3 separate regions of the Homo sapiens genome follow, and all the other regions are reported to be linked to region 2. The links are microRNA targets in miRTarBase. Many come from high-throughput screens and were not tested one by one. Region 2 holds a microRNA gene; each other region holds the end of a gene's coding sequence. Distances are from middle to middle.

What was found. The annotated mature microRNA hsa-miR-6512-5p reads UACCAUUAGAAGAGCUGGAAGA and lies in region 2 at 1,975-1,996, opposite strand. An mRNA with a match to its seed (bases 2 to 7 or 8) in the 3' UTR can be bound and repressed. Matches are read on the target gene's strand: a 7mer-m8 pairs with bases 2 to 8, a 7mer-A1 pairs with bases 2 to 7 and ends in A, and an 8mer does both.
Region 1: the mRNA of HEY2 is a reported target of hsa-miR-6512-5p. The part of its 3' UTR that is shown has no 7-base or 8-base seed match.
Region 3: the mRNA of FIGN is a reported target of hsa-miR-6512-5p. The part of its 3' UTR that is shown has no 7-base or 8-base seed match.

Annotation. Positions count from the first base shown.
Region 1 is chr6:125,759,281-125,762,500 of GRCh38, forward strand. HEY2 (hes related family bHLH transcription factor with YRPW motif 2) reads left to right here. Exons shown (of 5, transcript NM_012259.3): 5 at 1-1,989. The coding sequence ends at 522. Among named protein-coding and RNA genes, the nearest start is that of HEY2, 11 kb to the left of the region's middle.
Region 2 is chr2:177,311,879-177,315,139 of GRCh38, forward strand. MIR6512 (microRNA 6512) reads right to left here and starts at 2,004; the gene lies at 1,928-2,004. The region is part of intron 6 of LOC100130691 (Putative uncharacterized protein FLJ44553); the gene reads right to left.
Region 3 is chr2:163,607,046-163,610,259 of GRCh38, forward strand. FIGN (fidgetin, microtubule severing factor) reads right to left here. Exons shown (of 3, transcript NM_018086.4): 3 at 1-3,214. The coding sequence ends at 2,507. Among named protein-coding and RNA genes, the nearest start is that of FIGN, 130 kb to the right of the region's middle.

The DNA of each region.
Region 1 (3,220 bases), not on the chromosome of region 2:
GAGGCGGCGGCCATGACATCCTCCATGGCCCACCACCATCATCCGCTCCACCCGCATCACTGGGCCGCCGCCTTCCACCACCTGCCCGCAGCCCTGCTCCAGCCCAACGGCCTCCATGCCTCAGAGTCAACCCCTTGTCGCCTCTCCACAACTTCAGAAGTGCCTCCTGCCCACGGCTCTGCTCTCCTCACGGCCACGTTTGCCCATGCGGATTCAGCCCTCCGAATGCCATCCACGGGCAGCGTCGCCCCCTGCGTGCCACCTCTCTCCACCTCTCTCTTGTCCCTCTCTGCCACCGTCCACGCCGCAGCCGCAGCAGCCACCGCGGCTGCACACAGCTTCCCTCTGTCCTTCGCGGGGGCATTCCCCATGCTTCCCCCAAACGCAGCAGCAGCAGTGGCCGCGGCCACAGCCATCAGCCCGCCCTTGTCAGTATCAGCCACGTCCAGTCCTCAGCAGACCAGCAGTGGAACAAACAATAAACCTTACCGACCCTGGGGGACAGAAGTTGGAGCTTTTTAAATTTTTCTTGAACTTCTTGCAATAGTAACTGAATGTCCTCCATTTCAGAGTCAGCTTAAAACCTCTGCACCCTGAAGGTAGCCATACAGATGCCGACAGATCCACAAAGGAACAATAAAGCTATTTGAGACACAAACCTCACGAGTGGAAATGTGGTATTCTCTTTTTTTTCTCTCCCTTTTTTGTTTGGTTCAAGGCAGCTCGGTAACTGACATCAGCAACTTTTGAAAACTTCACACTTGTTACCATTTAGAAGTTTCCTGGAAAATATATGGACCGTACCATCCAGCAGTGCATCAGTATGTCTGAATTGGGGAAGTAAAATGCCCTGACTGAATTCTCTTGAGACTAGATGGGACATACATATATAGAGAGAGAGTGAGAGAGTCGTGTTTCGTAAGTGCCTGAGCTTAGGAAGTTTTCTTCTGGATATATAACATTGCACAAGGGAAGACGAGTGTGGAGGATAGGTTAAGAAAGGAAAGGGACAGAAGTCTTGCAATAGGCTGCAGACATTTTAATACCATGCCAGAGAAGAGTATTCTGCTGAAACCAACAGGTTTTACTGGTCAAAATGACTGCTGAAAATAATTTTCAAGTTGAAAGATCTAGTTTTATCTTAGTTTGCCTTCTTTGTACAGACATGCCAAGAGGTGACATTTAGCAGTGCATTGGTATAAGCAATTATTTCATCAGTTCTCAGATTAACAAGCATTTCTGCTCTGCCTGCAGGCCCCCAGGCACTTTTTTTTTTGGATGGCTCAAAATATGGTGCTGCTTTATATAAACCTTACATTTATATAGTGCACCTATGAGCAGTTGCCTACCATGTGTCCACCAGAGGCTATTTAATTCATGCCAACTTGAAAACTCTCCAGTTTGTAGGAGTTTGGTTTAATTTATTCAGTTTCATTAGGACTATTTTTATATATTTATCCTCTTCATTTTCTCCTAATGATGCAACATCTATTCTTGTCACCCTTTGGGAGAAGTTACATTTCTGGAGGTGATGAAGCAAGGAGGGAGCACTAGGAAGAGAAAAGCTACAATTTTTAAAGCTCTTTGTCAAGTTAGTGATTGCATTTGATCCCAAAACAAGATGAATGTATGCAATGGGATGTACATAAGTTATTTTTGCCCATGCCTAAACTAGTGCTATGTAATGGGGTTGTGGTTTTGTTTTTTTCGATTTCGTTTAATGACAAAATAATCTCTTAATATGCTGAAATCAAGCACGTGAGAGTTTTTGTTTAAAAGATAAGAGACACAGCATGTATTATGCACTTCATTTCTCTACTGTGTGGAGAAAGCAATAAACATTATGAGAATGTTAAACGTTATGCAAAATTATACTTTTAAATATTTGTTTTGAAATTACTGTACCTAGTCTTTTTTGCATTACTTTGTAACCTTTTTCTATGCAAGAGTCTTTACATACCACTAATTAAATGAAGTCCTTTTTGACTATTTTTTATGTGGATGAGTTGCTTTGCAGAAAAGTTTCCTTCCACTTTCTATGTGGAAAGTCAACATGAATTTCAAGAGGTCTTTATTTACTAACGATCCAAGCTATGGCTTTTCTTTATGTCTTTCAAAATCATTTGATATAATTCACAGCTTGCCTGAAAATAACATTTATCTGAGCTTGTAAACTAAGCATAGGCAGTAAGATACTTGGAGGCAAGAAATAATCAGTTTCCTCTGCCTTTTATTCTTAACTACAGTTCTTGGCAAAGTGCAAATTCAAGACTTCCAAATGGTATACCAAATATAGGATAATAAGCTAGAACATGTCATACATGTTGTAATTCAAAAACATTTGTAGAGTGTTTTAAAAACATCACATACATACATGATAGGCGTGTACATACGTCCTAATGATAAATCCCTTGTGCTTCAATGACAATTTCTTTTGTTGCTGTGGAGATTGTATGGGTATTGCCTCTGCTTCAGTGAGGCCTAAATAAACCATCATAGAGCTCCTGAAGCTATTGGGCCAAACAACATAAAAAGAATGAAAGTGATTTTTATTATGCTTATCAATTTGTTCAAAGGAAAAAGGAGGGCTTTTATATTCTGGTTTTGAAAAATCCAGCAAGTAGTTTAATTTCTGTCTGTAAGTGGGTAATGAAAAGGTCGAGGGGAGGCAAAAGCAAATCACCTTGTTTCTTGTGTCTATAAGCCTTGTGGTTCTTATATTTTCCAGCTGGCTCTAATAGAATGAGGTAGCAAATAAGAAAATTGATTTCGTTGTCTTAGGTGTTTGCTTTATAATCATGATTTGTGGACAACAGCCATATAATTTTTACTTTAAGATCTAAAACCTGAATGTATTCCTATTGTAATGTCAGCATTCAGAGAACTTCTTTTCCTTTTTTGAAATGTAAACTTTTAGAGATCAGGAATTTAAAATTTATTTGAATTAAATATTTTAAGATAAATTCCTTTCCTTCCTCCTTCCCTCCCTTTCTTTTACTTTTTGTTTTTTCTTACATTTTTTATTGCAGGTTATATATGTATTATTATTTTTCTTTTTTCTTTTTTTTTTTTCTTTTTCAAGACAGGGTCTCACTCTGCTCACTCTGTCACCCAGGCTGAAATGCAGTGGTGTGATCATGGCTCACTGCAGCCTTGACCTCCGAGGTGCAGGTGATCCTCCAACCTCAGCCTCACGAGTAGCTGGGACCACAGGCATGCA
Region 2 (3,261 bases):
AAATTATGAATGTCTTCTTCAAAATACACTATTAAAAGAGTGAATAAAATAAGCCACAGAGTGGGCTGGGCACAGTGGCTCACGCCTGTAATCCCAGCACTTTGGGAGGCCGAAGCAGGCAGATCACAAGGTCAGGAGATTGAGACCATCCTGGCTCACATGGTGAAACCCCGTCTCTACTAAAAATACAAAAAATTAGCTGGGCATGGTGGCGGGCACCTGTAGTCCCAGCTACTTGGGAGGCTGAGGCAGGAGAATGGCGTGAACCCGGGAGGAGGAGCTTGCAGTGAGCCGAGATCACGCCACTGCACTCCAGCCTGGGTGACAGAGCAAGACTCCATCTCAAAAAAAAAAAACAAAAAACAAAAAGCCACATAGTGGCAAAAGATATTATCAATACATATACCCGACAAAGGACTCATATCCAGAATAAAGGACTATAAAAACAAGAAAAGGCAGACAAGCCCATAGAAAATCACACAAAACACATGAATAGGCATTTCACAGAAGAGGGTACCCAAATGGCCAATAAACAATTAAAAAGGTGTTTATTTGATATCAGAAAAATGAAAACAACAATGAGATTCAATACACTGCATTAGTCTTTGAAGAGAATGGCTAAAATTTAAAAGATGGAAAAGATCAAGTTTTGATGAAGATGTGAAAAACTGTTGGGCAGTACTACTCAAGCTGAACCCCATGCATCAGAGAAATTACACTTTTATATATCCAACTGAAATATGTGTGTGTGTGTGTGTTCACCAATGTTCACAGTGGCACTAGTTGCAGTAATCTCAAATTGGAAACAACCCAAATGTCCATCTTTGGTAGAACGTATAAATTGTGTTATATTCATACAATGGAATACTACACAGCAATGAAAATGAAGATACTATTATTACTCTCAACATGAATGAATCTCACAAATAGTTGAGTAGGAAAAGCCAGTAATAAAATAATACACACTGTATCATTCCATTTTGTCTAATGTTTAAAAATAGGCCAAATTGGTCTAGGGTATTAGAAGCCAAGATTACAGTCAATTTGAGGGAGGATAATGCCTAGAAAAGATAATGAAGGGAGCTTCTGGTATGGTAGTAGTTTCTGCCTCCCAATCTGGGTGCTAGCAATATGTAGGTGTGTTTACTTTATGAAAATTCATCAAGCTCTCTGATTATAATTTGTGCATTTTTCTGTCTGTATGCTATACTTCAATAAAGATAGATTTATACTGAGTTAGGAACAAAGCTCAATAACTATAATTCTAGGCTGAGCTGCTAATAGGATTTGTTAAACAATTTAAACTGTGCCAGTCAGATATAATGATGCGAAATTAGAAAGGTAAAAGGAAGAGAGAGGCTATTTCCCCTGCCTATTAGTTTTCCTTCCTTCCTTCCTTCCTCCCTTTTCTTTCTCTTCTTTCTCCTTCCTTCTTTCTCTTTCTCCTTCCTTCCTTCCTTCCTTTTCTTTCTCTTCTCCTTCCTTCCTTCCTTCCTCTTCTTTCCCTTCCTTCCTTTCTCTCTCTCTCTTTTTACCTTCCTCCTTCCCTCCCTCCTTCTCTCTCTCTATTTATTTATTTTTTGAGAAAGATTCTTGTTCTGTCCAGGCTGGAGTACAGTGGCACAATCACAACTCACTGCAGCCTAGACCTCCTGGGCTCAAGGATCCTCCCACCTCAGTGTCCCAAATGTTTGGGACTTCAGGCATGCACCAACATGCCTGGCTGCCTATTAGTTTTCACTGGTAGTTGTTGATGTACGTGCAACATTAAATGTGGTTTTTAATGACCAGACTTTCTGTGCCTCTGCATTGCCACTAACTTCATCTGTGAGAAATGACTGTGATGCCAGCAGTGGACTTTATAGCTTCCTGACCTCTAGATTGTAGCTGTGTGGACTGAACTGCGAGCCCAACAGCATCCCTCTTAATGCTCCTACCATTAGAAGGGCTGGAAGAAGGCATCTCCCTCAGCCTTCTTCCAGCTCTTCTAATGGTAAGAGCATATAATTTTTAAGCATATAATTCTTAGCATTCAGTACCTAGAGAAGTGTCTGCACTGAACCCCAACTGATATATCAGTTAATAACACAACTGATAGGTTATCTAGTAGGTTTATGGTTGGTTGTAAGAATCTTTGGGAAAGAAAATTACCATTGGCAATCCTACCACCTAGGATCATCATTATCATGGGAAAGTTCTGCTTTAGAGGCAACCTAAATCTATTTTGAGGTCCTGAAAATGCATTTACTTCACAGGATATGCTGGTTTCTGCTGCCATTCAAAAATTATTCTTAAGGCATTCTTTGTTCTCTTTTCACTAGCTAAATAATGCCGTGCTTTTAACTTTTCTTTATGTGTTCAGCAGCTTTTCCCAGTTGTGGATATTTGAAAAAAGTATTCATATAAATACTGCCTGTTCTGGTAGGATTAGCTGTCCCTTTCTTTTGGTTATATTCCCAAGTTCATTCTTGCTTATCTAACCAAAGCCCTACATTGCTGACTCAAGTTTAGTTTATGGTCCAAGCCCAGTATCATGTTACTATTAGCCAAGATTTCCCATGGGTTGAGGCAGACTTGTAGAAGATTGAAAAATAAAACTTACTGGCCATAAGTAAGACTTTTTATCTGGCCTTCCAGTACAGAACATTCTCTAATATAGCAGCTTATAAACAATGAGAATCAGAAGCCTAAAAAAATTAGTTAATAGCCAAACAGTGACTGAATCATGGAATTGTACAGTTAGAATGGACCTTAGAAGCAGTCTATATAAGCCAGGTATAGTGGCTCATGCCTGTAATCTCAGCACTTTGGGAGGCCAAGGCAGGAGGATCTCTTGAGCCCTGGAGTTTGAGACCAGCCTGGCCAAAATGGTGAGACCCCATCTCTACTAATTTTTTTAAAAAGTCTATATACATACCAGAACACAGAGCTCAGATATGTATGCAGGATTCCAGTCCGTGCTGAATACTCTTCCAGTATGAGTACTCTTCCTACTCCTCAAGGTGTGTGGCCCTCAAAGCAGCAGCATCAGCACTTACCTGGGAGCTTGTTAGAAAGCCAGAATCTCAGGCTCCAACACCCACTGAAGCAGAATTTGCATGTAACACCCCCACCCCTTCTTGATTTGTATGCATGTTGAAATTTGTGGAGTTAGAGACAAAAGCACCACAGGTGCATGTCTTACTATTTAAAGTCTTGCCTAATTATATAACATAGAAACCTGATCCCTTCTGGACAAGGCCTGTATTATTACAGGTCCTG
Region 3 (3,214 bases), 14 Mb from region 2:
CAATATTGGATTTTCCAAAGTTGTCTAAATAAGACTGGGTTTGTCAAAACTTGCCAGACGCTTTCAAGTGAACACAGCATGTTGGCGGAAATGAAATATAATGTCTAAAAGTCAGAAAATAGGTCAGCACTGTGCAAAAGTAAACTTGTCAGTGAGATCAATATGAACCTACAAGTTAATGTGGATATTAGAATTTCCTTACAAGGGATGCACAGGGTAGACCCAGAACACGATTGTAGCATTTATTCACTTGCGAAAAGCAGAGGGCGTATTTAAGTATTATTTTTTGTATCCTTAATGAAAGGCACTGCTTTTTAATATGGAATATTTATATTTAAGCACAGCTTTAATTGACAGAATGTCACAGTAAATTAAATTCTGGTTCAATTGCTCAGTTTTTAGCAACATAAAAAATAAAAAAAGGGGAGTAAAGATCAAGCATCATAAAATTTCAGAGATAAGAAATCCCTCATGAGCTTTCTCTATGTTAAGTGTTTCAGAGAATTGGATATTGTGGATAAGATCGGTAAAAATTTTTGTAAGAAAAAAAAAACAGAAAGGCCTTTCTTGGGGCTTCTCATTGCATTTATTTAAATTTTTTTAAAAATGTACATCACTTATTTATTGAATACATAAAATGCCAGTGCTTTGCAACAGTTTTGTTACTGCATCTCTAAACTAAAAAAAGAAAAGGGGAAAAAACCCAGGAAAATACATTCAAAAGGCCAGGCTGTTCTGCTTATGCATGGGCAGTGGCTGTGGAAAGCTACAGCCTGCTCTGTGACAGTTCAGAAGCATTGCCAAACATCAGCCCACTATCAATGAAAGGTTGCACATAAAGCATTAAAGGATACAAAGAACAACTTGACAGAGAGCAGGAGAAAAATAGGAAATTAAGAAAAATGCCACTTATGCCATGGGTAGGGGTGGGGCTGGTAGACTGAGGTGGAAGTAAGCACAAATGCTGATGTCTTTGGAAACTAGATTTACGGTGAAAGATGGAAGAAAACAAAGTAACATGTTTGGCAAGCTACATTGCAGTGTGTGTGTCCACTTCCAATTTTCTACTTTACTTTCCAAGAGAAATGTAACAAAACTGAGGTAGAAATAAAGCAGGAGCACTACAGCCCAGATTTCAAAATGAGAAGCAAAATTGCACTGACAAGAGTGGAGTCAAAAAGAAGGGGAGGAGATGGAGAGGTTCTTTGTGGATATATATATGTGTATGTAAGTTGGTTTGTTGGTTGGTTTTTGTTTTTATTTATTTGTGTATTTGTTTTGGTTGCTATCCTCTGCATTCTATCAAACAGCACGGCAAGTCTATAAGCTAGATTAGTGAATAGAATGACACCATTCCCAGCAGTTTTAAGAGATAACTTGCAAACTACCACCACCATCACCACCACTACCACCTATGCAATAAAAAGGCAGTCATAGTTTTTAGGTACTGTGACTTTCAGGGTCCTAAACAGGTCTTGTGGCTGACAGGTCTAGACACTAACACAAACTGAATAAGTAGCTTTCAATTAACCAGTGTACCTTTTAAGAACATTTTCACTTAATTATCAAGGAGCAATGTACTAAGAACTCTTGCAGTTATTGACATAAAGAATTATTCTGCTCTGGTTAATTCCCCATAATTAGTAAAAGAACTTAAAAAAATCCTTCCATTTCTACTTTAAACTGTAAATATTCAGTTGTATCACACTTCAGTATTTTTCTGGATACATTCAAAGTAATTTTCCTTGCTATTTTCCAATTGTTGAGGTAAACATACATTTTAATATAAAGTAACATTGAAGCCTATCCTATTACTCTCAGCAGTACATAGTGCTTTCAACACATTCCTTTGAGGTACTGTACAAATCACAATCACTTTCCTGAGTTTTTGCAGACAAGAACATTAAAAGAAATGAACTGCAGAAATTAAGGTCCAGATTACCGTTACCCTGTTTTACCTGTTCTTAGCTTAATACTGCAGAACAGACAGGATTGAGGAATACTGTTGCTCTTAAAATGGCAAAAATCTGGTTTTCTGTCATAACACAACTGTTCATCTCTTTAGTCCAATAATGTTTGAAGTTAAAGCTCTTTATATTAGCACATGCCACCAATGTAATTGTGAGGCAAACAAAAAATAAAGCACCACTCCAGGCACTTGACAGCAACTAAATCTCGAGAACAGCAGAATGGAATCAACACACGAGGTTCATGTCCTTCTGAAATCAACACACTTGCACCTTGCTCCTTGGTGAGTGTTGTCTAGCTTGAACAGAACTGAGCATCCACATATGCTTTCTGTCATCTGGGGCTTTCAAATCAGAAGCTCTCATTTGATGCACTTTTCCTCCAAATCTACCCTGACTCTAAAGATGCAACTTAATCGTCATCTTCCCCAGTACCCTTTGCAATTTAAACTCTACTGGAAAGGGGCTCTATTCCCTATGTAGCAGGTTTTATGTGTGTGTGCCAACATTCATTACATTTTTTTTTTCTAAAGAAGTTATCACTGACTGCAACCAAACATTTTGTTCCATTCAACATACATATCAAGCTCCTTTTGAGATATGCTAGGCTGAATCTTGCAGAAAGCATTTTCAAAGTCTTGATATGTAACGGGCCTCAACTGGCTGGGCATAATGGCTGAAAGGTCTGTGGCTGGCATGGCATGGAGGGGGCCCACCACTGCTTCCTGACACAAATGAGCCACATCTAGTCCAGAAAAGCCTTCTGTGCGCTGGACGAGCAGTGCAAACTCCTTGTCATTGAGACAGTAATTGTGCTGTGAGAGCAGTTGTACTATTATCTGGTGCCTCGCTGTGCTGTCAGGAAGTGGGATTAAAAGTCGTTTCATGAAGTACCTCCGAAGGGATTCATCTATTTCTTCTGGTTTACTGGTGGCACAAATTACTACGATTTGGTCCTCAGCCGAAGTTAGTACAGTGTCCAGTTGCATCAGAAATTCGGTTCTCATCCGACTGACTGGACTATGTTCCTCATTCACTTGAGAGGAGAGAAGCATGTCAATGTCACTAACAAAAATCACCGAGGGCTGGCGACACCTGGCCACAAGAAAAGAGGCATGGATAATTTTCTCTGCTTCTCCTAACCACTTGGCGACTAGTCCAGAACCGGCAATTTTGAAAAATGTGGCCCCCAGCTGACTAGCGATGCATCTGCCCAATAATGTTTTGCCTGTCCCCCGAGGTCCAAA